Linked DNA regions of Homo sapiens. The protein of the gene in region 6 interacts with the protein of the main gene of each other region in a biochemical or structural test. Each region holds a gene or a part of one and is shown on either strand. Other genes may lie near its edges.

The links.
Region 1: the proteins of UBE2L3 (region 6) and BRAP form a complex in vitro, tested with the Homo sapiens proteins (one large-scale study listed by BioGRID).
Region 2: the proteins of UBE2L3 (region 6) and HERC1 form a complex in vitro, tested with the Homo sapiens proteins (one large-scale study listed by BioGRID).
Region 3: the proteins of UBE2L3 (region 6) and RNF19B form a complex in vitro, tested with the Homo sapiens proteins (one large-scale study listed by BioGRID).
Region 4: the proteins of UBE2L3 (region 6) and ATXN3 form a complex in vitro, tested with the Homo sapiens proteins (one study listed by BioGRID).
Region 5: of the proteins of UBE2L3 (region 6) and UBA7, one has a biochemical effect on the other in vitro, tested with the Homo sapiens proteins (2 studies listed by BioGRID).
Region 7: the proteins of UBE2L3 (region 6) and PIAS2 form a complex in vitro, tested with the Homo sapiens proteins (one large-scale study listed by BioGRID).

The regions. Positions count from the first base shown.
Region 1 is NC_000012.12:111,679,457-111,682,956, forward strand, and holds part of BRAP (BRCA1-associated protein), read right to left. Parts: intron 2,380-3,500; coding exon 2,181-2,379; intron 1-2,180. UniProt on the Homo sapiens protein: Negatively regulates MAP kinase activation by limiting the formation of Raf/MEK complexes probably by inactivation of the KSR1 scaffold protein.
Region 2 is NC_000015.10:63,655,949-63,659,448, reverse strand, and holds part of HERC1 (probable E3 ubiquitin-protein ligase HERC1), read left to right. Parts: intron 1-715; coding exon of another isoform or gene 716-730; coding exon 731-905; intron 906-3,090; coding exon 3,091-3,361; intron 3,362-3,493; coding exon 3,494-3,500. UniProt on the Homo sapiens protein: Involved in membrane trafficking via some guanine nucleotide exchange factor (GEF) activity and its ability to bind clathrin. Acts as a GEF for Arf and Rab, by exchanging bound GDP for free GTP.
Region 3 is NC_000001.11:32,944,310-32,947,809, forward strand, and holds part of RNF19B (E3 ubiquitin-protein ligase RNF19B), read right to left. Parts: intron 2,256-3,500; coding exon 2,093-2,255; intron 1,320-2,092; coding exon 1,205-1,319; intron 1-1,204.
Region 4 is NC_000014.9:92,082,583-92,086,082, forward strand, and holds part of ATXN3 (ataxin-3 reference isoform), read right to left. Parts: intron 922-3,500; exon of another isoform or gene 831-921; intron 677-830; coding exon 544-676; intron 1-543. UniProt on the Homo sapiens protein: Deubiquitinating enzyme involved in protein homeostasis maintenance, transcription, cytoskeleton regulation, myogenesis and degradation of misfolded chaperone substrates.
Region 5 is NC_000003.12:49,807,832-49,810,953, forward strand, and holds part of UBA7 (ubiquitin-like modifier-activating enzyme 7), read right to left. Parts: intron 3,002-3,122; coding exon 2,921-3,001; intron 2,842-2,920; coding exon 2,686-2,841; intron 2,598-2,685; coding exon 2,432-2,597; intron 2,353-2,431; coding exon 2,147-2,352; intron 2,049-2,146; coding exon 1,984-2,048; intron 1,895-1,983; coding exon 1,711-1,894; intron 1,634-1,710; coding exon 1,559-1,633; intron 1,329-1,558; coding exon 1,145-1,328; intron 638-1,144; coding exon 555-637; intron 282-554; coding exon 189-281; intron 97-188; coding exon 1-96. UniProt on the Homo sapiens protein: E1-activating enzyme that catalyzes the covalent conjugation of the ubiquitin-like protein product of ISG15 to additional interferon stimulated proteins (ISGs) as well as other cellular proteins such as P53 in a process termed protein ISGylation.
Region 6 is NC_000022.11:21,574,214-21,577,713, forward strand, and holds part of UBE2L3 (ubiquitin-conjugating enzyme E2 L3), read left to right. Parts: intron 1-3,500. UniProt on the Homo sapiens protein: Ubiquitin-conjugating enzyme E2 that specifically acts with HECT-type and RBR family E3 ubiquitin-protein ligases.
Region 7 is NC_000018.10:46,886,508-46,890,007, forward strand, and holds part of PIAS2 (E3 SUMO-protein ligase PIAS2), read right to left. Parts: intron 1-3,500. UniProt on the Homo sapiens protein: Functions as an E3-type small ubiquitin-like modifier (SUMO) ligase, stabilizing the interaction between UBE2I and the substrate, and as a SUMO-tethering factor.

The DNA.
Region 1 (3,500 bases), on a different chromosome or scaffold from region 6:
AATGAACTGTTCTATATTATACCCCCCATTGGACTTTTTAATCTTCAGTTCAACATTTATTACGGTTATAAATCTGCATTCGGTAAATTTGCAGTGTTTTACTCTCATCAATGTTTGAATAATAATCTGTCACTGGTGGCCAGGCACAGTAGCTCATGCTCGTAATCCCAGCACTTTGGCAGGCCGAGGCGGGTGGATCACGAGGTCAGGAGATCGAGACCATCCTGGCTAACACGGTGAAACCCCATCTCTACTAAAAATACAAAAAAAATTAGCCGGGCATGGTGGCAGGTGCTTGTAGTCCCAGCTACTTGGGAGGCTGAGGCAGGAGAATGGTGTGAACCTGGGAGGCAGAGCTTGCAGTGAGCCAATATCGCGCCATTGCACTCCAGCCTGGGCCACAGAGCAAGACTCCATCTCAAAAAAAAAAAAAAAAAAAAAAATCTGTCACTGGTTAACTTAAAAGCACAACTCTGGCTATGGACCTCTCTTAAAAGGCCTAAAAAAACAGCTCTAAATATACGAGAGAATTCTGTCTTTTTTTTTTTCAGAGTCTTGCTGCATGGTCTCGGCTCACTGCAACCTCTGACTCCTGGGTTCAAGCAATTCTCCTGCTCAGCCTCCCAAGTAGCTGGGATTACAGACGCGTGCCACCACGCCGGGCTAATTTTTGTATTTTTAGTAGAGATGGGGTTTCACTATGTTGGCCAGGCTGGTTTCGAACTCCTGACCTCGTGATCCCCCGCCTCGGCCTCCCAAAGTACTGGGATTACAGGCGTGAGCCACCACGCCCGGCAAGAGAGAATTCTAAACCATGAGGATGTAACTGAGGATTACAGGAAGTGTTACCAAGTTGAGATGGCTGGAATAGAGAGGAAAGAAAATCCTCCCACAATGCAATTTGTTTTTTGAAATGCTGCAAACTCACTTGACAGCTGTGATCCAGAATGGCTACCTGTGCCGGGTGCAGTGACTCACACCTGTAATCCCAACACTTTGGGAGGCTGAGGTGGGCTGATCACTTGAGGTTAGGAGTTCGAGACCAGCCTAGCCAACATGATGAAACCCCATCTCTGCCAAAAAAAAAAAAAAAATTAACTGGGCGTGGTGGTGTGCACCTGTGGTCCCAGCTACTCTGAGGCAGGAGAATTGCTTGAACCCGGGAGGGGAGGTTGCAGTGAGCCAGGATTGCACCACTGCACTCCAGCCTGAGTTATGGAGTGAGACCCTGTCTCAAAAAAAAACAAAACAAAAAACAAAACAAAAAACAAAACAAAAAACAAAATGGCTACCTGAATAGTCACTGTTTTCCCAGTAGAGATCTGGCAAATGAGTTAGCACAAGAACAGCCTTAAGGTATCAGCTACCATTACCCAAGAAGGTAGTGGCTGGGCTTGTGGATTATCTAGCCAAATGCTTCCTTTCCTTGGGGCTCTAGCAAGCTTTGTTTGAACCACAGAAAATGGTAAAAAAGAGGTAATAAAATTGTAATGAGTTAACTGACTTCTTAGCAGCCTCTTCAGTAAAGATTTGGTGGGGACATGAGACTACAAAGATGCTGTGGATCATTTTCTTTGTCCTTTCAATTCCCCATCACCTTCCATGCCTATCTGCTAAGAAAACATTTTCCTGGCAGGGCGCAGTGGCTCACGCCTGTAATCCCAGCACTTTGGGAGGCTGAGGCGGGCGGATAACCTGAGGTCGGAGTTCAAGACCAGCCTGGCCAACAGGGTGAAACCCCATCTCTACTAAAAATACAAAAAATTAGCTAGGTGTGGTGGTGGGCACCTGTAATCCCAGCTACTTGGGAGGCTGAGGAAGGAGAATCACTTGAACTCAGGAGGCAGAAGATGCAGTGATCTGAGATCGCGCCATTGCACTCCAGCCTGGGCAACGAGACCGAAACTCCATTTCAAAAAAAAAAAAAGAAAACATTTTTCCCACATATTCTCTTAAGTGTATCCACAAGCATTTCTTTTATAAGGAAAAGCTTTGACCCAATCCACAAGATTAATCAAATGTAAAACATCTGAGAATTCTCTAACATACAACAGACAAAAGTATTATTATTTTGAAGCTTAAAATACCCACTTTCCTTCAGGACAAGAGACTATGCTAAAGCAAAGCAAAAAAAAAAAAAAAAAAATTGACTAACCCCCAAGAAAAGAGGGTTTTCTTACTTTGTCTTATATAGGTGCATAATACCATGAACTATTTCAACTGATGGATTTCCACTGAAGAATGAAATCTGGTCTGGAAGCTGTTTGGACGGAGAATCTGGGGCAGCGTTTATGCATTCCTTACTGTGATCTTTACTTCTTTGCGCAGTGGGGGAGGCTTCTGAAGACTTCCTTTCTTCCACTGTAGTTTTTAGTTCATCTTTCACCAGTTAAAAAATAGCAGATTATAAATGGATAGGACATATGCTGAAGGATTTGAACTAGATTAAAATTTCAAGTCAGAGGAATAAACTTTGATAGAGTAATTACAATGTAATGCATTAACAGCTATTATTTGTAGAATAGCTGAGTTTATGAGGGCATCATACTTTAAAGCTCTCTTTGCTCCATAAAAATCTCATTAACACCCTCAGAAACTTAAGGATGGCTATTACATTTGGCAATACCATAATGCAAGCAGGTATCTTCTATCACGAAATCCTAACTGGGACAAACATTCAGGGCTACTAAGGTGGAAATCCAAACCTACCAGTTCTGACCACCTCCATGTTGGAGATGTAGTACTATCTACACATCCACTTCCGCAGATAAAATGAGCTGGCTGGCCGGGTGCAGTGGCTCATGCCTGTAATCCCAGCACTTTGGGAGGTCAAGAGGTTGAGACCATCCTGGCTCACATGGTGAAACCCTGTCTCTACCAAAAATACAAAAATTAGCTGGGTGTAGTAGCGTGCACCTGTAGTCCCAGCTACTTGGGAGGCTGAGAGAGGAAGGAGAATTGCTTGAAACCAGGAGGTGGAGTTGCAGTAAGCCGAGATCATGCCACTGCACTCCCACCTGGGGACAAAGTGAGACTGTCTCAAAAAAAAAAAAAAAAAAAAAGAAAAGAAAGAAAGAAAAAATGAGCTGGCAGAGCAGGGGAAGGCACGACATGTTTATTTGGACACATTAATGATCTGCCACTGAACTAGGTGGTAAGAAATTCTCCCTGGTAGCCGGGTGTGGTGGCTCACACCTGTAATTCCAGCACTTTGGGAGGCCGAGGCAGGTGGATCACTTGAGACCAGGAGTATGAGACCAGCCTGGCTAACATGGAGAAACCTTGTCTCTACTGAAAATACAAAAATTACCCAGGCGTGGTAGAGGGCATCTGTAATCCCAGCTACTTGGGAGGCTGAGGCAGGAAGACTGCTTCAGCCCAGGAGGCTGAGGTTGTAATGACCCGACATTGCACCACTGCACTCTAGCCTGGGCAACAGAGACCCTGCCTCAAAAAAAAAAGTCCCCCCCGTCACTGAACTGAATTGTCAACTCCAACTG
Region 2 (3,500 bases), on a different chromosome or scaffold from region 6:
AGACCCATTTCTATTAAAAAAATGAAGAAAAGTAGCTGGGTGGGTGGTGTGCACCTTTAGTCCCAGCTACTCAGGAGGCTGAGGCAGAAAAATTGTTTAATCCCAGGAGTTTGAGGTTATGGTGAGTGATGATTGAGCCACTGCACTCCAGCCTGGGTGACAGAACCAGACCCTGTCTCAAGAGGAAAAAATAAATGTTTTGATTTTTTTTTGTCTTTCATGATACCGAAGCAATAAAAAGATTTATAGAACTTGTTATTTAAAAAAAAACTTGGTGTTAAGAGAATCCTGTAACCAACTTAAAATTATTGTGCAGTCTTCTTTTTATTTGGGTGAGAGGGTGTGGTAAATTTTTGGTATAGGGAATACAAAATAAAGAATTGGGCAGTATTGGTAATTCAGTCCTTTATAAATTCTCAAAGCACTTATAATCAGTAGATGTGATACATGGGCAAAATGAACAAAACAGAAAATACTTACTGGTAAATTAAGTATAAATACTCCTATGGTAAATACATTGTTAACATAGAAATATCTAAGTTAGAAATATCCAAGTTCAAACTTAGAAATATGTGAGTTTCTCCTAAGAAATTTTCTGTATAACCAAGTTCCAGATGAGCAAAAGACATTGGTTTGTTATGGAACCTCTGTAGAATAGGAAATGTTTTTAGTAGTTCAGATGTATTTTTTTCTTACCTTGTTGAGAACAAAACAGAATTATGTTTTTCAGGTTGCCATGGCTCCGTAGAAAAGAGCTCCTCTGGGAGAATAACGTTAGGAGAGCAGGCAGCTGCCCTAGCAAACCCTCATGACCGTGTGGTGGCTTTAAGGAGAGTGACTGCTGCTGCTCAGGTTCTTCTGGCCAGAACCATGGTCATGAGAGCGCTGTCTCTTCTCTCAGTCAGGTAAGTGTTATTTTATGTCACATGATGCTAAGTTAACTTCTAGTGTACATTAGCTGGAAGTCTGGTGGTGTTTGGGAGGGTGAGATAGAATTTTAGAAGCTTGAATATGTACTGTTGAATGAAAGATGTTAGACGTAGTCATTGTTATTCACTCAATCGGTCATTCAGTTAATACTTGGCTCTTTTTAGGTAGAAAATAATGCCATTATCACAACTGAGTAAACTGCATACATTTTATTTTGTTGCTTGAAATGGGAAACTAAGGCTGTTGATCCCAATGGTGCTGGATCAAAAACTAAAGGTCAAAATGTATTGACCGTCTGTGTAGCTAAGTCAGCCTGCAGATGCCATCATGGGGATCCTTGCCGTGTTGATACTGTGGAGTGTAATGTAAAAAGGGGATGAGAACCAGAAATACCTAAAAGACAGCTGTTTAAGAAGTGATTAAGCAGGAGTATTTAATGGCAAATCAGTGAAGGCAGAAAGATCCTGAAAGAAAAACAAAATTTCCATAAGACTGTGTGCTATTGGCTCAAGGATAGGCAAATAGGATAGTACAGAAGAGAGTTAAGAAACTGACCCATACATATAAATAAACACTTGATTTATGGTTTGATTTATGACAGTGGTTCACACTGTAGAGCAATAGAGAAAGGCTGTTTTTTTCAGTAACTGAAGCAGGGTCTGATGGTTTATCCACATAGAAAAAAAAAGCCTTGGTCCCAACCTCAAACTATATAAAGCAAATAGTTATAAAGTGGCTATTAGATCTAAATATAAAAGAAAAATAAATCAATAAAGTTTATTGAAGGTAACATAGAAGAATTGCTTCTTGGTCTTGGGACAAGCAAAAATTCCTCAAGCAAGTCACAAAAGGAATCTGCCATAAAAGATTGATAAATTGGAATACAATAAAATAGAAAACCTCTGTTTAGCAAAAGTGATTTGAAAAGTAAGAAAGTAAAAAAGCAAGCCATAGAATGGGAGAAGATATTAGTAATGCATCTAACCAACAGAATGTGTAAAGAATTCCTATAAATTAACAAGAAAAAGACAACCCAGAAGAAAGTGGACAAAACACATTAAGAAGTGTTTCACAAAAGAGGATCTCCAAATGGCCAATAAACATGAAAAGATGTTCAACCTCAGTGAGTCTTCAGAGAAATGAAAATTAAAATCCAGTGTGATTGGGAGGCCAAGACGGGAAGAACCCTTGAGCCAGGAGTTTGAGACCAGCCTGGGAAACATAGTGAGACCCTGTCTCAAAAAAAAAAAAAAAAAAACCTAAGACAAAAAACCCACCAATGAGATACCATTGCACACCCACAAGAATGGCAAACATTTAAAACACTAGAGAGAAAAAAGTGACTGAAACAGCTAAAACTCCCATACATTGTTAGTGAGAAAATGAATTGGTATAACCACTTTGGAAAACTGTTCGATAGTATCAACTAAAACTGAACAGGAACATACTCTGTGACCCAGAGATCCACTTCTGGGTATATATCCAACAGAAATACTTAAATATGTGCCCCCTAAAGACCAATCATTCATGGTAGTACTATTCATAATAGCCCCATGTTGGAAACCGCCTGATTGTCATCTGTAGGGATAAATGAACTGTGGCAGATTTCATGTATATGTCAATGAAAACGAACTGCTCAATGCTACAAGATTTGGATGAATCTTACAAACATAATATTGAAGAAGCCAGACACAAAAGAGTACATATATTAATTATTCAATTGATGTAAAGTTCAAAAACAGGCAAAACTAACTTGTAGCTTTAGAAGTCAGGATAGTGGTTACTTCTGAGAGCATCGTGACTGAGAAAAGCCCAAAGCAGGTTTCTGAGGTACTGGCAATGTTCTGTTTCTTGATCTGGAGGGCGGTGACATGGGTTTGTTCAGCTTATGAAAATTTATGCTTTGTGAACATTCCTGTTTTACTTTGTCAGTTCAATTGTACTTCAAGTATATGCCAATACTTATTAAAAGGAGAGAACGTTTAGATGCCAGTTTCCAGCTTGATACCTTTGGCAACTCTTAGGACATGTATGGCTAATGATAGTGCAGCTTACATTTTATTATGGTTGTTGATGCTGTGAATGTTATGTGGGACTGCAAATGGTCCCTTAAGAAATCCATTTTCTTTATCCATCTGAGATGTTTTTCTTTACTGGCAGTGGTTCCAGTTGTAGCCTGGCTGCTGGTCTTGAGTCTCTGGGGCTAACAGATATCCGAACGCTAGTTCGATTAATGTGCTTGGCAGCAGCAGGGAGAGCTGGCCTCTCCACCAGCCCTTCTGCCATGGCTAGCACCTCAGAACGATCACGAGGTGGGCATAGCAAGGCTAACAAGCCTATCTCTTGCCTGGCCTATTTGAGCACAGCAGTGGGATGTCTGGCATCAAATGCTCCTAGTGCTGCCAAACTGCTTGTACAGTTGTGTACACAGGTAAGCTACTTTCAGTACTTTTCCCCGTTACATTGATTATTTCTGACTGATTCTTGAGCCTTTTGAAATGAAATATTTTTGTTCCAAAATTACATGTAAAAATTAAGTCTGTTTTTCCAATTGCTTCTTCAGAACTTGA
Region 3 (3,500 bases), on a different chromosome or scaffold from region 6:
ATGACCAGGCTAGAAATCAGAAAGGTCTGGATTAGATTCTTGGCTCCATTTACTAGCTGTATAACCTTGGACCTATCTTCCCAGGGTTGTCAATAATCAAATGAGAATGCTATGTACTGTGTTTTGCACAGTAAATATATGTTGCTTTCATTTTCCCCTCTTCTAATCACTGCTGAAATGCTAACCCAATCAAGAGCCAATCAAGAATCAAATATTAAATAAGTGACTACTGCTTGGAGTTTAGGATCTCCTCAGGATGTTAATTCCAAAATCTTACTGCTGTGTGAGGTAGAATGGCTTAGCTGTTAAGAGAACAGGATCTGAAGGCAGATTAACTTGATTCATGTCCCAGCTAAGTGACCTTGGGAAAATTACTGCACCTTTCTTTTTTTTTTTTGAGACGGAGTCTCACTCTGTTGCCCAGGCTGGAGTGCAGTGGCACGATCTCGGCTCACTGCAAGCTCCGCCTCCCAGGTTCACGCCATTCTCCTGCCTCAGCCTCCCAAGTAGCTGGGACTACAGGCACCCGCTACCACACCCGGCTGATTTTCTGTATTTTTAGTAGAGATGGGGTTTCACCGTGTTAGCCAGGATGGTCTCGATCTCCTGACCTCGTGATCCGCCCGCCTCGGCCTCCCAAAACACTGGAATTACAGGCGTGAGCCACTGCGCCCAGCCAATTACTGCACCTTTCTATTAAAATTGTGCTTCCTTTTGTAAGGATTGTGAGGATTAAATAAATTAATATATGCAAAAGTCTCAGAACCACTCCTGGCACATGAAGAGCCACATTAAATGTTAGTTACACTATTATTATTCTAAAACAAACTCTTATGCCTCCCAAAGTAATGTGAAGCATTAAACAAATCAAAACAAAAGTAATTTTGTTTTGTGGATTTCATGGCAAGTAGAGAAGGAAGATGAAAGGTGAAAACTAGGGCTTAAAATAAGTTTCTGTAATTCAACCTTTTCTATGTGCCAAATGGAGTTCTAGGCACTAACTTAAGAACAAAAGATTGCACACTCTGATAATTTGGTGTGCTTGAAAAACTTAAAAATAATCATAATCATGGTGCCTAACAGAATTTACTATCAAGGTGGGTTCGCATAAAATGTAGGAGTCTTTGAGAAACATCTGGCCATCTGGCTAAACTGCTATGGTCAGAAAGCTGAGAGAGAAGAGGTGTGGTCCTGACTAGCTTACCAACACTAACTGCAGCAATAACTGGGGATGCAATGACCGACAAAGTCACTCCTCCAGTGATAGCCAAATTCCTCTTGTGTTTGGAGGTTTTCCTTCCCTCATACCTGCTGTGAATCTAAGAATAAAAAAAGAAAATCCAGGTCAGCAGGTTAGGACATCAATCTTTTGCCAGAGAAAAAAAGGACAGGTGAATATTCACTTGTAAGTTATCTATATTAAAACATATCCTCTACCCCAAATAGGCATCTTTATCAAATTTTAACCTAACTCAGACCTGGAAGATATAAAGTAATACAGGCAAAGTTAATCCAAAAAGAGACAAAATAACTCCAGCAGAATGAAGTAAGCATTTTACCTTCTTCTTTTATTTTTTTTTTTGGAGTCTGTCATGCAGGCTGGAGTGCAGTGGTGCGATCTTGGCTCACTGCAACCTCTACGTCCCTGGGCTCAAGCAATCCTCCCACCTCAGCCTCCCTAGTAGCTGGGACTGTAGGCACATGCCACCATACCCAGCTAATTTTTCTATTTTTTTGGGTACAGATGGGTTTTGTCATGTTGCCCAGGCTGGTCTCAAACACCTGGGCTCAACTGATCTACCTGCCTTGGCTTCCCAAAGTGCTAGGCCACGTATTACAAATGTGAACCATCATGCCTGGCCCAGCATTCTACCTTTAAGTCACTGAGACAAGCCAGGCCCAGGATGTTAATAAGAACTTTCAGATCTCATGGGGGTTTATGAAAATCCATTTAAGAAAGTAAGGTTATTTTTATCTAAGAACCAGCTGGTTTTCAGGCAGCTCTGAAACATAGCTCCTTCCCATTTCCCTCAAACCTTTACTAACGAACCTAAAGTTGAAACAAGCACAGAAACCAGCATGTCTTTCTTACCTTCCTTCCAACATAAACAGGAATGCCAATGACCATGGCAGGAATGGCAATGCCAGCAATGAGAGAAATCCCCACTGGAGCACCAATCAACGTGCCCAGCTGCCAAAGAATTTTCTTCTTACGGCTCCATGGCTTCTTGCCCCAGAATGTACAGCCAGAGGGGCTGCAGGGGAAACAGACTGAAGTTAATGTCAACATTACAAATACAGCTAGTATTATCATAGGGCTTGATAACAGCAACAGCCTTCTTTTCAGTAAGGATTAACAGAAGAGTTTATGGGAAATGAATACATTACACAAGGGAGAGCAAAGGACAAGGCCAGACTATTAGAGCTCTGGGCTCTTTAACTTTTTTGGTTGTTGTTGTAAAGACAGGCTTCCAGACTTGAAATTCCTTTTCCATTCTTCTCTGCTGAATTCTGTCTTCCCTAACCCACCAAAACTGATCTAGCTTCCATGACTGACAATACTTGGGATGCTGCATAGCCTTATGCACTTGACATCCCATCCAGACACACTGCACCCTGCACTAATGAACACTCTGATTTGTGTAGTTTTCTTGGCATATGTCCTACCATACCTAATAGATACTGCAAACCATGTTCGTGGGAGAGGATATAAAAAGACCTCATCATAACCTTTCTATCAGTTTGGTATTCTGAGTTTGGCTACTTTTACAGTCAGCCCTTCTGTGCCCAACCATTTTTGCCCATTCTCTTTGTGCTATCTTCTCCACTAGAAGGGATAAACAATTTTGAAAATAGGGATCATGTCTTACTCACCCCTATGTCCCCAATGACTAGCACACAGTAAGTACTCAAATGTTCGACAAATTGGCAATGAAGGTGTTGTGTTTCATTTACACAATGAATGTTTGTTTGTAAATATTAACACATTTTGTTTATTTGTAAATATTAGCAAACATTTTGTTTGTAAATATTAACTCCTCCACAACATTTTAATATTCACTCAATGAGGCTGGGCGCGGTGGCTCGCGCTTGTAATCCCAGAACTTTGGGAGGCCGAGGCAGGCGGACCACCTGAGGTTCGAGTTCGAGACCAGGCTGGCTAACATGGTGAAACCCCGCCTCCACTAAAAATACAAAAATTAGCTGGGCATGGTGGCAGGTGCCTGTAATCCCAGCTACTTAGGAGGCTGAGGCAGGACAATCACTTGAACCTGGGAGGTGGAGGTTGCAGTGAGTCGAGATCGAGCCACTGCACTCCAGCCTGGGCGACAGAGAGAAACTCTGTCTTAAAAAAAAAAAAAAAAAGAATTCACTTAATGAATTCCTTGGGAACTCACTAAATGCAAAAAACTGTAAAAAGGTCACAACTCTAGCCTCAAGATACTTACAGTTTAGTAAGATAAGATAGGTACGTGAAGTGTAAAGTACTGACGATATTT
Region 4 (3,500 bases), on a different chromosome or scaffold from region 6:
AATAAGCTCTAGTAATATAATGATTGTGTTGCAATTTGAATCCAACTAAGTTTTTTTTTTCCGTTTCTTTTTTTTTTTTTTTTTGAGACAGGGTCTGACTCTCTCGACCAGGCTGGAGTGCGGTAGTGTGATTATGGCTCACTGTAGTCTCTACCTCCCCAGTTTCAGGTGATCCTTCTTCCTCTGCCTCCCAAGTAGCTGGGACTATAGGCATACACCACCACATCTGGCTAATTTTTGTACTATTTGTAGAGATGAGGTTTTGCCATGTTGCCCAGGCTGGTCTCGAACTCCTGGGTTGAAGCAATCAGCCTGCCTCAGCCTCCCGAAGTGCTAGGAATATACCATACCAGCTAACTAAGTTAATATATTTAAGTATTTCAAAGAGTTGATTCAAGTTTAAACTAATAAACTTCACTAAAATATAAGGTCCAAAATAGAGTCGCCAACAACACAAGGACCACATATTCAATCTAAGCATGAAAATTTAATTCTCATAATGAAATACTACCATATATTCCATACTGCAGGCCTCATTTTTACCTTTGCTCTTTTAGTTGTGCTAATTCTTCTCCAATAAGTTTTGGTCGATGCATCTGTTGGACCCTAATCATCTGCAGGAGTTGGTCAGCTTCGCAATCTGGCAGATCACCCTTAACGACAAATATAGAATAACCTAAAAAAAAAAGGCAAAAATCAACCTAACCAGTTAGTAAAGAGATTCAAAATTGATGTAAAACACTAGTAGATAAAAAGGCAGCACAGAACACTGGAAAAAAATACAAGCTGAGGATTCAGAAAGACTTTAGTCCAAATAATGATTCTTATACTTACTAGTAAAGTCGTCTAAGGTAAGTTACTTAAAGTCTCTGAGCCTCACTTTCTCCATTGTAAGACTGGAAGAGCCGTCTCATTGAGTGACTGTGAGAAATAAATATGTCTGTAAAGGGCCCTACTAATATAGTACTTGACTGAGCAGGCTACTCACTTACTGTTGTCAGAGTGGGTAACAGCAACTGATTTAGAATCAGACTGCCTGCATCTGATCCCAGTTCTCCCACTTCCTAGCTGCATTTGTCTTGGTTTCTACTGTTAAACATATGATACTAGTACCTTCCTGTGATGGTTAATATTATCAACTTGATTGGATTGAAGGCTACAAATTATTGTTTCTGGGTGTGTCTGCGAGGGTGTTGCCAAAGGAGATTAACATTTAAGCCAGTGAACTGGGAGAGGTAGACCCACCCTCAAACTGGGTGGTCACCATCTAATCAGCTGCCAGCTCAGCTAGAATAAAGCAGGCAGAAATAAGAGTGTGGAAGTACTAGACTTGCTGAGCCTTCATCTTTCTCCCATGCTGGATGCTTCCTGCCCTCAAACATCAGACTCCAAGTTCTTCATCTTTTGGACTCTTGAACTTACACCAGTGGTTTGCCAGGGGCTCTCAGGCCTTTTGCCACAGACTGAAGGCTGCACTGTCAGCTTCCCTACTTTTGAGGTTTTGGGACTTGGACTGGCTTCCTGGTTCCTCAGCCTGCAGAGAGCCTATTGTGGGACTTCACCTTGTGATCATACGAGTCGATACTCCTTAATACATTACCCTTCATATATACATCTACCTTATTAGTTCTGTCCCTCTAGAGAACCCTAATACACTTACTCACAGGGCTGCTGTGAGGACACAGATAATGTGTGCAATAACTAGTAACATGGCTAAAACTAATCATCTGCGGAAAGAGCTACCCCCACCCTGACCCACACATGTACACCCCTTGTAACTAAAAATAGGGGCTGGGAAGCCAAATACCTAAAAGCTATTTAAGGTGTCAAACGTGTGGTTTGCATCCCAAAAGAATTACATTAGTCTAGTGTGACTGTGTCTAAATATGATTCCAGAAATCCAGGGTTTCCCCAAGCTAGATGCTACACACAAAAACCAAGGATGGGCTATACCTAAAACAATCTAACTGATTTAAGTTTCTCTATCATTAATTTTTTTTTTTTTTTAATTTGAGATGGAGTCTCACTCTGTCACCCAGGCTGGAGTGCAGTGGTGCAATATTAGCTCACTGCAACCTCTGCCTCCCAGGAGGTTCAAGCGATTCTCCTGCCTCAGCCTCCTGAGTAGCTGGGATTACAGGCACCCACCACCACACCCAGTTAATGTTTGTATTTTTAGGAGAGGCAGGGTTTCACCATGTTGGCTGGGCTGGTCTCGAACTCCTGACCTCAGGTGATCTGCCCACCTCGGCCTCCCAAAGTGCTGGGATTACAGGTGTGAGCCACCGCGCCTAGCACATTTTTCTTAAACTTTGGTGTTTGTTATTGGATATCCTTTGTTGGATTAACACATAATGGGACAAAGATTATAAGAACTATTAATGGAAAACCTCAAAATAGTATGTTGAACATTTTTTATGAGGACAACTGTATTCAGAGTTTAGACGGTTTAATGTGTTTTCTGCCAGTAAAATTGTTTCTGTATTGTATAATAAATATGCCAGCTCACCATGGTATTCTATGAAGAGTGTCTGAAGAATGGATACTCTGCCCTGTTCAGGGGCCATGGTAAAGATCTTGGGTTTTATTCAAGACTTCACATATTTTTTTTTTTTAATTTTTTTTTGAGAGTCTCGTTCTGTCACCCAGGCTGGAGTGCAGTGGTATGATCTTGGCTCGCTGTAACCTCTGCCTCCCGGGTTCAAGTGATTCTCCTATCTCAGCCTCCCGAGTAGCTGGGACTACAGGTGCACAACACCACACCCAGTTAATTTTTGTATTTTTTGGTAGAGACAGGGTTTCACCATGTTGGCCAGGCTGGTCTCATCAACTCCTGACCTCAAGTGATCTGCCCCCTCATCCTCCCAAAGTGCTGGGATTGCAGGCATGAGCCACCAAGCCCGGCCTAAGACTTCAGATTTTATTCTAAGTGTGCTGGGAAGCCACTGAAGGACAAAGAGTGAGGGTGGGACATAACAGGCCTTACACTGGTTAAGAAGCACTCTGGGCTGCTCTGTCGGTATAATATATAGGAACCAGAGTACAAGAGTCACCCTTATGGAAATGGAAAACCTGATGGATAGCATGGATAGAGAGAAAAAAATAAGTCTTTCATAGACATGTTCAGTTTGAAACACTTTTTGGATTTCCAAGTGGAGATGCCAAAGCTAGGAGTTAGTCAAAGCTAGGTGTTCAGGGTAGATGTCAAGACTAAAGATAAAAGTTTGGTAATTATTGACACATAGATCTTATTTACAGATGATATTTAAGATCCATGAAAGGAATCTGAAAAGTGCAGGCAGCAAGTTAGGAAAACCACAGCATGGTGGGCTGAAGGCCAAAGGTAGACAGGGTTTCTAAGAAGGGATATCATCAGGAACCAAGGTTTTAAATATAAAAGAAAAAAGATACAAGTATCTAAAATCAAAGAATTAAAAACCCTATATTCCTAAATGTGAATTCACAATAACTACATAACAAACCCAGCAGCAATAAGCATG
Region 5 (3,122 bases), on a different chromosome or scaffold from region 6:
ACTCACCACCTTATACAGCTCCAGGCCCAACAGGCCTGCCACAGCTGCTGTAGTGGTGGCAATGGCTGGGATAATCTGGCCCACAATTCGCTTGCTCTGCCAAGGACAAGAGATTTGGTCTGGGCCCAAGGCGTAGGGCCAGGGTTTGCCCTCCACCTCCAGGCCCAAGCCTCAAGGGGTGGGGTTACCTGGGCACGGTTGACCGGTGGAATCCCGTAGTTCTGACATCTCAGGCTAGCTGCCGCTACCACAAAGTCCACATGGAAGTTGCTGTCATCATCCTGTAAGGCCCAAGTCAAAGTAGTGTTAACACTGCAGCTGTGCCCCTCACCGTGGCCCACTGCGTGTCACTGCACAAGTCTCCACACAGTTCTGTCGGGGGGTTGCCCCACATCTCCTCTTGATCAGACAGGCTGAGGTTCAGGGAATGTGAGCTGCTTCCAGGGTCTTGCTGGGAGAATTCAGGCCAAGGGGCTCCAAAACTACCTTATTAGCTCCTGACCTTTCTCCACAAACTCCCCAGCCCCACTCCTCACTGCCACTTGGGCACCCACCTTCTCAAACATCAGAGGCTTCAGGGGAGGGCCCACACTCCAGACTTCCAGGGCTTTGTTCAGTTCCTTCTGCTGCTCAGGGCCTGTCAGGGGAGGGGATGTTGAGGCAGTCCTTAGCCCCTGTCTCCTGCACTCTTCTTGGAGCCCTGTGCCTATTCTTGGTCTTTGCCAAGCCTGTCACTTACTATTCCCTGATCAAATCAAGAAGCCCCCTTAATTAATGCTACAATCTCCCCTCTAGAAGCCCCAGTCTTCACCCATGTGTGCTCATGACCTCTGTGACCCTGTCCTCACCTGCAGGCCATAGCTAGACACTCCCCAGGAACCAATGGACTTTATTTATTTACTTATTTATTTTGCCAAGAATCTGCCACAAGAACTGGGATGTGGGGTAGGCAGCAGGGAGAAGACCTACTGAGGGACCAGAGGATAAGCCTGAAACTATGGAGGAGTGAGGTTAGGAGGCCTGAGAGGTAGCAAATTGGCTGTAGATCCCCTAGGCCCTATCTTCCTTCTGCAGCACAGGCTGAGGACAGGACAGGTTCAGGCCTTTGAAAGACAGCATGAGGGGCCAGGGCCAGGAGCCTCACCAAACTCAGCAGAAGCCGAAGCCAGCTCTAGATTACTAGCAAAGATGGGGGCCATCTGTTGGGGGTCAGGCTGTGGCAGCAGCTTCAGCAGCTCCCTGAGTGCAGTCCAGTCCTGTGAGCCAGGCAGCCCATGCATCTGGGCATACAGGTTGGCAGCTGCCAGTACGTAGAGGAGGTGTGTGTCCTGCAGCCAGACCAAGAGCAGGAACAGAGGCATGGGTGCATGGGGTGGGGGTCACTGTCCATTTGTGGATCTGTTTGAGTGCCTGCCTTTGCCTCACATGTAGACACCCATATATGCACAAGCATGGCTCTCTCTGGGCATCTGTGCATCTCTGCAGAATGCAGAAATGCCTACCTCTGCTCTGAGGGGCCACATCTCTATCTTGGAGCTCCCTACAGAATCCCACTCACTTGGTTGGTGTCAAACTCCAAGGGCTGGGGACACTGTTTGGGACCTGACCAGAAGGGAGTTCCATCCTCAAGCACCTAGGTAGGTAAGTAGAAGCTGCTGGGCTCAGTCTGGTCCCCCTGAGCCCCCAGCGTCCCAACCCCTAGCCACACACTTTATTAGGTGGGAAGTGCCTCAGCAGCTGTTTGATGCCATAATGAAAGCAGAGTTTCCAGTGGCCAAGAGCCCACGCCACACAGTCTTGCCAGTTCTGTGGACGCACTCTCAGGACCCCAAGCACTGGCTTCAGTAAGGTGAGTGTCTGTGGCTCATCCATGTCTGCCAGGGAAGTGTGTGCCCTGCAGAGAGAGGAGGAAGTGTGAGACTGAGTCCTGCAGACTCATGCTTGGAGCCCTGGACTCCCATCTGCCTCTGTTGGTGGCCTTACTGTTGGTGGTGGTTGATGGTCTCTGCAGACAGTCGGAAGAGTTCTTCAAACTCATGCCGGGCCCACTGTGGAGGAGGGAGGAAGAATGAGGTATCAGGTGGAGAACAGGTCTGCAGCTGAGGGCTGAGCTGGGTGGGGTGGGAGTCTCCAGGGTGCTTCCTACCTGCAGGGTGTGCTCGGCTGTGCTAGGGAAGTACCGCACGGTACAGACAGGGTAGGGGGCATCCTCAGAAGCTGCAGCTGAGGCAGGGGCTCTGTAGGCCTCAGTCACATGTGGCATGAATACTGTAGCACTGCCCCAGGTGCCCGATGTGCCTGCCTCCAGCAGTGGCTTCAGATAGTGGGTGCAACGAGCAGCCACATAGCGCCCTGGCAAGGGAGCAGTGGGTCAGAAGTGGGACTGGCACAGCTGTGGGCAAGGGACTGACCTCCGAAGTCAAGCACTCACGGGCCTGGAAACTGTCCAGGGCAGCAGCCACACCATCCACACGGGAGAAAAAGTTATCCCCATAGATGTGCTCTGTGGTGGGATCCAGTGGGTAGGTGAGCGGGATCACCTGTAAGTCTGGGTTCAGGCCCCGGGCAGCTGCTGCAGCCACCTCTGCCTTGGGTCTCTGGGAAGAAGGCAGGAAGATGTTGGGTGGGAAGCTGTATGGGAGGACGGTCTGGGATGCAGGAGTGTGGAGAGGGGTCAGCACTCACACCAACGTCCTGGGACCTGAAGAGGAACTGACGGCTGAGATTGGAGCGCTCTATGTGGTCCATGTCAACAACAGTCAAGCCCCCGCTGTTCCCGGCCCCCAGTCCCACTAGGGCAAAGACTTTGAGCAGCTCACAACCAATGGCACCAGCGCCCACCTGTTGGCAGGAACAGCCTTAGCCAGAGGGGCTGGGCTGGCTCTCCCAAAGGCACCCCCAGTCTCACCCCACAGCTCACCAGGAGGTAGTGCTGGCGTCTCAGTTTCTCCTGAAAACCAGCCCCAAACACTGCAATTTGCCCATCATAGCGGCTGCCTCTCTAGGGGACAGAGACGGGGTCAGTGATGGCTACTGGCCTGCATCTCCTTCTTATACTGAGTTTTCTGAATCAGGACCTGGAGGGCATTCCTCATGCTTCTCCCCTAGTCCTGATTTTGGAC
Region 6 (3,500 bases):
GCAAAGCTGTTTAGAGGAAGACTACAGCATAGCAGTTAAAAGCTCAGGTTCTGGAGTTTCAATCCTGGGCCTGCCATGTCTTAGCTGAGTGACCCTGGGCAAGTTACTTTACCTCTCTGTGCCTTAGTTACTTCGTCCGTGTGTGAAGGTTAAATGAGTTAATATATACCAACTGCTTAGAAGAGTGCCTGGCATATAGTAAGTGTGAGCTACTTGTAGATATTATTGGGAATAACCAAGACATGTTCCAGGGCAGGGAGGTGACCAGCCTGACAGGAGGGGAGGATTTGGAGGAGTGATAGGAGATGGTATTGCAAAGGTGTTTTCGGGACAGGTTGGGGCCAGTCTGCCTGGACATACCCTCATCACTGAGAGCCCATTCTCTTACCTGTGGTACTCTCTTATTCTGTAGGTTGGAGAAAGAGTTACTGAGACAGCTGTGTGAATGTTTGTTTAAAAATGTTGGCTGGGGGCCAGGCGCGGTGGCTCATGCCTGTAATCCTAGCACCTTGGGAGGCCGAGGTGGGCGGATCATGAGGTCAGGAGATTGAGACAATCCTGGCCAACATGGTGAAAACCCATCTCTACCAAAAATACAAAAATTAACCAGGCCTGGTGGTGCGTGCCTGTAATCCCAGCTACTAGGGAGGGGGAGGCAGAAGAATTGCTTGAACCTGAGAGGCAGAGGTTGCAGCGAGCTGAGATCGTGCCACTGCACTCCAGCCTGGGTGACAGAGTGAGACTCTGTCTCAAAAAATGTTGGCTTGGCGCAGTAGCTCACACCTGTAATCCCAGCACTTTGGGAGGCTAAGGCAGGTGGATCACTTGAGGTCAGGAGTTCGAGACCAGCCTGGTCAACATGGTGAAACCCCGTCTCTACTAGAATCACAAAAAAATTAGCTGGGTGTGGTGGCATGTGCCTGTAATCCCAGCTACTCGGGAGGCTGAGGCAGGAGAATTGCTTGAACCCAGGAGGCAGAGGTTGCAGTGAGCCAAGATCATGCCACTGCACTCTGGCCTGGGCAACAGAGTAAGACTCCATCTCAAAAAAAAAAAAAAAAAAAGAAAAGGAAAAAGAAAAATGTTTACTTGGCTGGGCGTGGTGGCTCATATCCGAATCCCAGCACTTTGAGAGGTCAAGGCGGGTGGATCACTTGAGGAGACCAGCATGGGAAACATGACGAAACCCCATCTCTACTAAAAAAAAAAAAAAAAAAATACAAAAATCAGCCGAGTGTGGTGGTGCATGCCTGTAATCCCAGCTACTCTGGAGGCTGAGGCAGGAGAATCGCTTGAATCCGGGAGGCGGAGGTTGCAGTGAGCTGAGATGGTGCCACTGCGCTCCAGCCTGGGTGATAGAGCGAGACTCTCGAAAGAAAAAAGAGAAAAGTTTACTTTTCCCAACAAAGTTGAATAGCTTTTTTTTTTTTTTTTTTTTTTTTTTTTGGAGACGGAGTCTCACTCTGTCACCCAGGCTGGAGTGCAGTGGCACCATCTCAGCTCACTGCAACCTCTGCCTCCCATGTTCAAGCCATTCCTCCTGCCTCAGCCTCCCGAGTAGCTGGAACTACAGATATGCGCCACCATACCCGGCTGATTTTTGTATTTTTAGTAGAGACGGGGTTTCTCCATTTCCCAGGCTGGTCTCGAACTCCTGCCCTCAGGCGATCCACCCACCTTAGCCTCCCAAAGGATTACAGGCGTGAGCCACTGTGCCCAGCTTAAAATTGAATAGCTCTTGAACTCAAAATTTGTCTTTCTAATATCTCAGAAATTTACCTTGCATATTGTAAACATCCAGTGTAGTGTGACAGTCACTGTGTCCAAAGATGAGCATAGGTGCTATGGAAGGCTCCCACAGGTGCTGAACTGGGGCAGGGGTGGAGGTTTGAAAGCAACTTTTTTTTTTTTTTTTTTTTGAGGCGGAGTCTCGCTCTTTCACCCAGGCTGGAGTACAATGGTGTGATCTTGGTTCACTGCAACCTCCGCCTCCCGGGTTCAAGCAATTCTTCTGCCTCAGCCTCCTGAGTAGCTGGGATTACAGGCGCACGCCACCACGCCTGGCTAATTTTTGCATTTTTGTTTTTTTTTGTTTTTTTTTTGAGATGGAATCTTGCTCTGGCGCCCATGCTGGAGTGCAGTGGTGCGATCTCGGCTCACTGCAAGCTCCACCTCCCAGGTTCACGCCATTCTTCTGCCTCAGCCTCCCGAGTAGCCAGGACTACAAGTGCCCGCCACCATGCCCAGCTAATTTTTTTGTATTTTTAGTAGAGACGGGGTTTCACCATGTTAGTCAGGATGGTCTCGATCTCCTGACCTTATGATCCTCCTGCCTCGGTCTCCCAAAGTGCTGGGATTACAGGCGTGAGCCACCATGCCCGGCCCCCAATTTTTGTATTTTTAGTAGAGCTGGGGTTTCACCATGTTGGTTAGGCTGGTCTCAAACTCCTGACCTTGTGATCCGCCCACCTCGGCCTCCCAAAATTCTAGGATTACAGATGTGAGCCACTGCGCCTGGCCGAAAGCAACTCTTGATTGAGAAGTTGAGGTCTCAGATGTAATATTCTTGCTTCTTGTCTTCTCTTTCCTTTTTTTTTTTTTTTTTTTTGAGACGCAGTCTCGCTCTGTCGCCCAAGCTGGAGTGCAGTGGCACGATCTTGGCTCACTGCAACCTTCACCTCTGGGTTCAAGCAATTCTCCCTGCCTCAGCCTCCTGAGTAGCTGGAATTACAGGCGTGTGCCACCATGCCTGGCTAATTTTTTTTTTTTTTTTGAGATGGAGTCTCGCTGTGTTGCCCAGGCTGGAGTGCAGTGGTACAGTCTTGGCTCACTGAAAGCTCCGCCTCCTGGGTTCACGCCATTCTCCTGCTTCACCCTCTCGAGTAGCTGGGACTACAGGCGCTCGCCACTACACCCAGCTAATCTTTTGTATTTTTAGTAGAAACGGGGTTTCACCATGTTAGCCAGGATGGTCTCGATCTCCTGACTTCATGATCCACCCACCTTGGCCTCCCGAAGTGCTGGTATTACAGGCGTGAGCCACCGTGCCTGGCCTGATTTTTGCATTTTTTAGTAGAGACGGGGTTTCATGGTGTTGGCCAGGCTGGTCGTGAACTCCTAACCTCAGGTGATCCGCCTGCCTCAGCCTCCCAAATAGCTGGGATTACAGGCGTGAGCTACCGCACCCAGCCCTTGTCTTCTCTTTCAACCTTGAAGCAGAAAGTTAAGAAAGTTGCTTCTGGTGGCTGTGTAGTTTCTCCTTCTGACCCTTGCTGCACACATACTCTAGAATTCCAGAGCTGTGTGAGGGATCTTGGAAAGCAGACACCAGTGGCCTCTGTTTACAGATGAGGAGGCTGAAGTCAGTGGTGGAGCCAGGCCCAACATCAAGGTCCCCTGCTCTCTGGGCCTTGCTCCTGCTTTTTAGATGGTTGCTTTTGGTCTTGAGGAAGGGACAAGATGGAGAAGAAGAGGGTTCATTTCAGATTCGGTGGCTGTTT
Region 7 (3,500 bases), on a different chromosome or scaffold from region 6:
AAAAGACAGACAACCGGGTAATAAGCATTTAAAATACTTGCTCTTGTTGGCCAGGTGCAGTGGATCACACCTGTAATCCCAGCACTTTGGGAGGCCAAGGCGGGTGGATCACCTCAGGTCAGAAGTTCAAGACCAGCCTGGCCAACGTAACGAAACCCCATCTCTACTAAAAATACAAAATTAGCCCGGTGTGGTGGCACATGCCTGTAGCCTCAGCTACTCGGGAGGCTGAGAGAGGAGAACTGCTTGAACCCGGGGAAGTGGAGGCCGCAGTGAGCCGAGACAGCGCCACCGCCCTCCATCCTGGGCGACAGAACAAGACTCTGTCCCCCCCCTCCAAAAAAAAACAAATAAAATCGAATAAAATAAAATACTTGCTCCTGTTACTAATTTTAAAAATAAAAATTTAAGCAAGATACAAGTTTTCATCTAAAAATCACAGAGATCTGTTTTCAATAGCACCCAGTAAAGGCAAAAAGTAATGAGATATGACAAGCATTCTCTCACTTTGCTTGTGGAATTTAAACTGGCACTAAAATAATTTGGCAATATGTTATCAAGAGTCTAAAACGTTCTTTTTACTTGATCCAATAATTCTACTCATAGGACTTTGTACAAACAAATAATAAAACATGAACAAACACTCAATCCTTATTTCAAAGTGAACGTAATAAAGAGATAAAATGCAATACTCCACTTGCTTGGATCACCAGTTTTGCTAAAACATAAATAAAGCAAAAAGCAAAAAATTGAAAAAAAAAAAAAAATAGCCACATTGCCTGCCACTAGTCAGGCCATACTAACCCCACTAACTAGCTCTACCCCTCAAAACCTTCCGATTTAACCAAGACAGGCTGCAGTACAATCCTGTAAGACAGGTAAAAAAGCACACTGATATGTTTAAGTGTTTTCACATGACTGAAAATAAAAAGGGTTTTCCCAAGAAAGAAAAGAAAGCAATCTTCCACATCAACTATGAAATGTTACTTCCCAATTTATTTCATAAAGAAATTCAAATATATTTGTAAATAACTTCATTAGGCAGTAAGAATTATAACACAGCAATGCAAAAATTTGTTAGTCACATTGTAAGCAATTGATGGGCATTAAATAAAAGCTAAAAAACTGCATGTCAAACTCCCTGTGCCACTTTAGAAATAAAATTAAATATAAAAGGTTTATTTCTTAGAAAATCAGTTTAAAAGCTACATTAAATGGAAAGTAAGTCCCTTTATAAAAATATGAAAAGTATCAAAATACAAAATCAGGATCAATAAATAAGATTTGTATCTATTCCCATTCACACGGAAGCAATCTGATTTCTACACCATAAGAATGCTTGAGTAAGTTCTAGCCAGAGCAACTAAGCAAGAAAAAGAAATAAAAGGCATACAAACAGAAAAGAAAGAAGTAAAATTATTCCTGTTCACAGATGGTAGGCTCTTATATACAGTAAACCTTAAAGATTTCACACAAAAAACCTGTTAGAATAAATGAATTCAGTAAAGTAGCAGAATACAAAGTCAACACGCAAAAATCAATTGCATTTTTATAAACTAATAATAAATATGATGAAAAGGAAATTATGTAGTTTTTACAATAGTATCAAAAAGAAAAAATATTTCAAAATTAACCACGAAAATGAAAACCTGTACAATAACAACTATAAAACATTGCTGAAAGATATTAAAGAACACATAAATAAATAGAAACACAGCTCATGTTCATGTACTGGAAGACTTAATTTTTTTTTTCCCCATCAGCCTATGTGGGAAAAGAAAGACTTAATATTGCTAAGATATCAATACTACCCAAACAAATTTACAGATTCACTACAATTCCTCTCAAAATCCCAATTTTTTTTTTTTATCAGAAATAGAAAAACTCATTCTAAAATTCACGTGGAATCTCAAGGGCCCCAAATAGCCAAAACAATCTTACAAAATAATTAAAGCTGGAGAATTCACTCTTCCTGATTCCAAGACATATTACATAGCTACGGTAATCAAAACTGTGATACTGGCATAAAGACAGACATCTAGACCAATGGAATAAATCAACAGTCACAACCTTTTTGGCCAGGACCAGTTTCATGGCAGACAATTTTCCCACAGGCCAGGGGAATGGTTTCTGGATGAAACTGTTCCACCTCAGATCATCAGGCATTAGATTCTCGTAAGGAGCATGCAATCTAGATCCCTTACATGCACAGTTCACAGTAGGGTTCCTGCACCTATGAGAATCTAATGCCACTGCTGATCTGACAGGAGGTGGAGCTCAGGCTGTAATGCTCGAATTCCTGCTGCTCACCTCCTGCTGCTCACCTCCCGCTGTGCGACCTGGTTTCTAACAGGCTGTGGACTGGTGCTAGTCCACGGCCTGAGGGTTGGAGACCTTGGAACAGAGAACCTGGAAATAAAACCTCACATACATGGTCAAATACTTTTTGACAAGGGTGCTAAGATCATTCAGTGAGGGAAAGGACAGGCTTTTCAACAAATGGTGGGGAAAAACTGGATATCCACAAACAAAAGAACAAAGCTGGACACTCACCTAATACCATATACGAAAATTAACTCAAAAGAGATCAGGCTTAAATGTAAGACCTAAAACTATAAAATTCTTAAAGGAAAACACAGGGCAAAACCTTCACAGCATGAAGTTTAGCAATGATTTCTTGGATATGACACCAAAGGCATAGGCAACAACAACAAAAAATAAACAAATTGGAATTTCATGAAAAAATGTTAAGTTGTACATCAAAAGACACTATCAACAGAGTAAAAAAGGCAAACCACAGAGTGGGAGAAAATATTTGCACATTCATATATCTGATAAGGGATTATATCCAGAATATACAGAGAACTCCTAAAACTCAACAACAATAAAACAAACCAATTCAAAAATGGGCAAGAGACTTGGCTATACATTTCTTGAAAGATACATAAATGGCCAAAAAGCACATGAAAATGCACAATATCACCATCATTACAGACATGCAAATCAAAGCTACAATAAGATACCACCTGACACCCATTATAATGGCCACTATAAAAAAAAAAGGAAAATAAAAGTGTTGTTAAGGATGTGGAGAAACTGGAACCCTTGTGCACTGTTGAAGGGAATGTAAAATGCAGCTGCCACGGAAAACAGTATGGTGATGCCTCAAAATACTAAAAACAGAATGACTATGTGATCCAGCAATTCCACTTGTGGGTATACAGCCAGAAGAATTGAAAAGCAGGGTCTCAAAGAGATACGTGTATACCCGTGTCCACAGAATTATTCGCAATAGCTAAAATGTGGGAGCAACCCAAGTGTCCAATGGATAAGCAAAATGTGGTATCCTATAACACAGAAATATAGAAGTAAAACCAGAAGAAACAGCTAAAATAATTAAGGTTGTTGCCTCTTGAAAGTGAGATTGAGGGATGAGTAGTGGAGTGAGCAAAAGATTACTATTTTTCTTTAAAAATGTATACTATTGTATTATTTAGCCT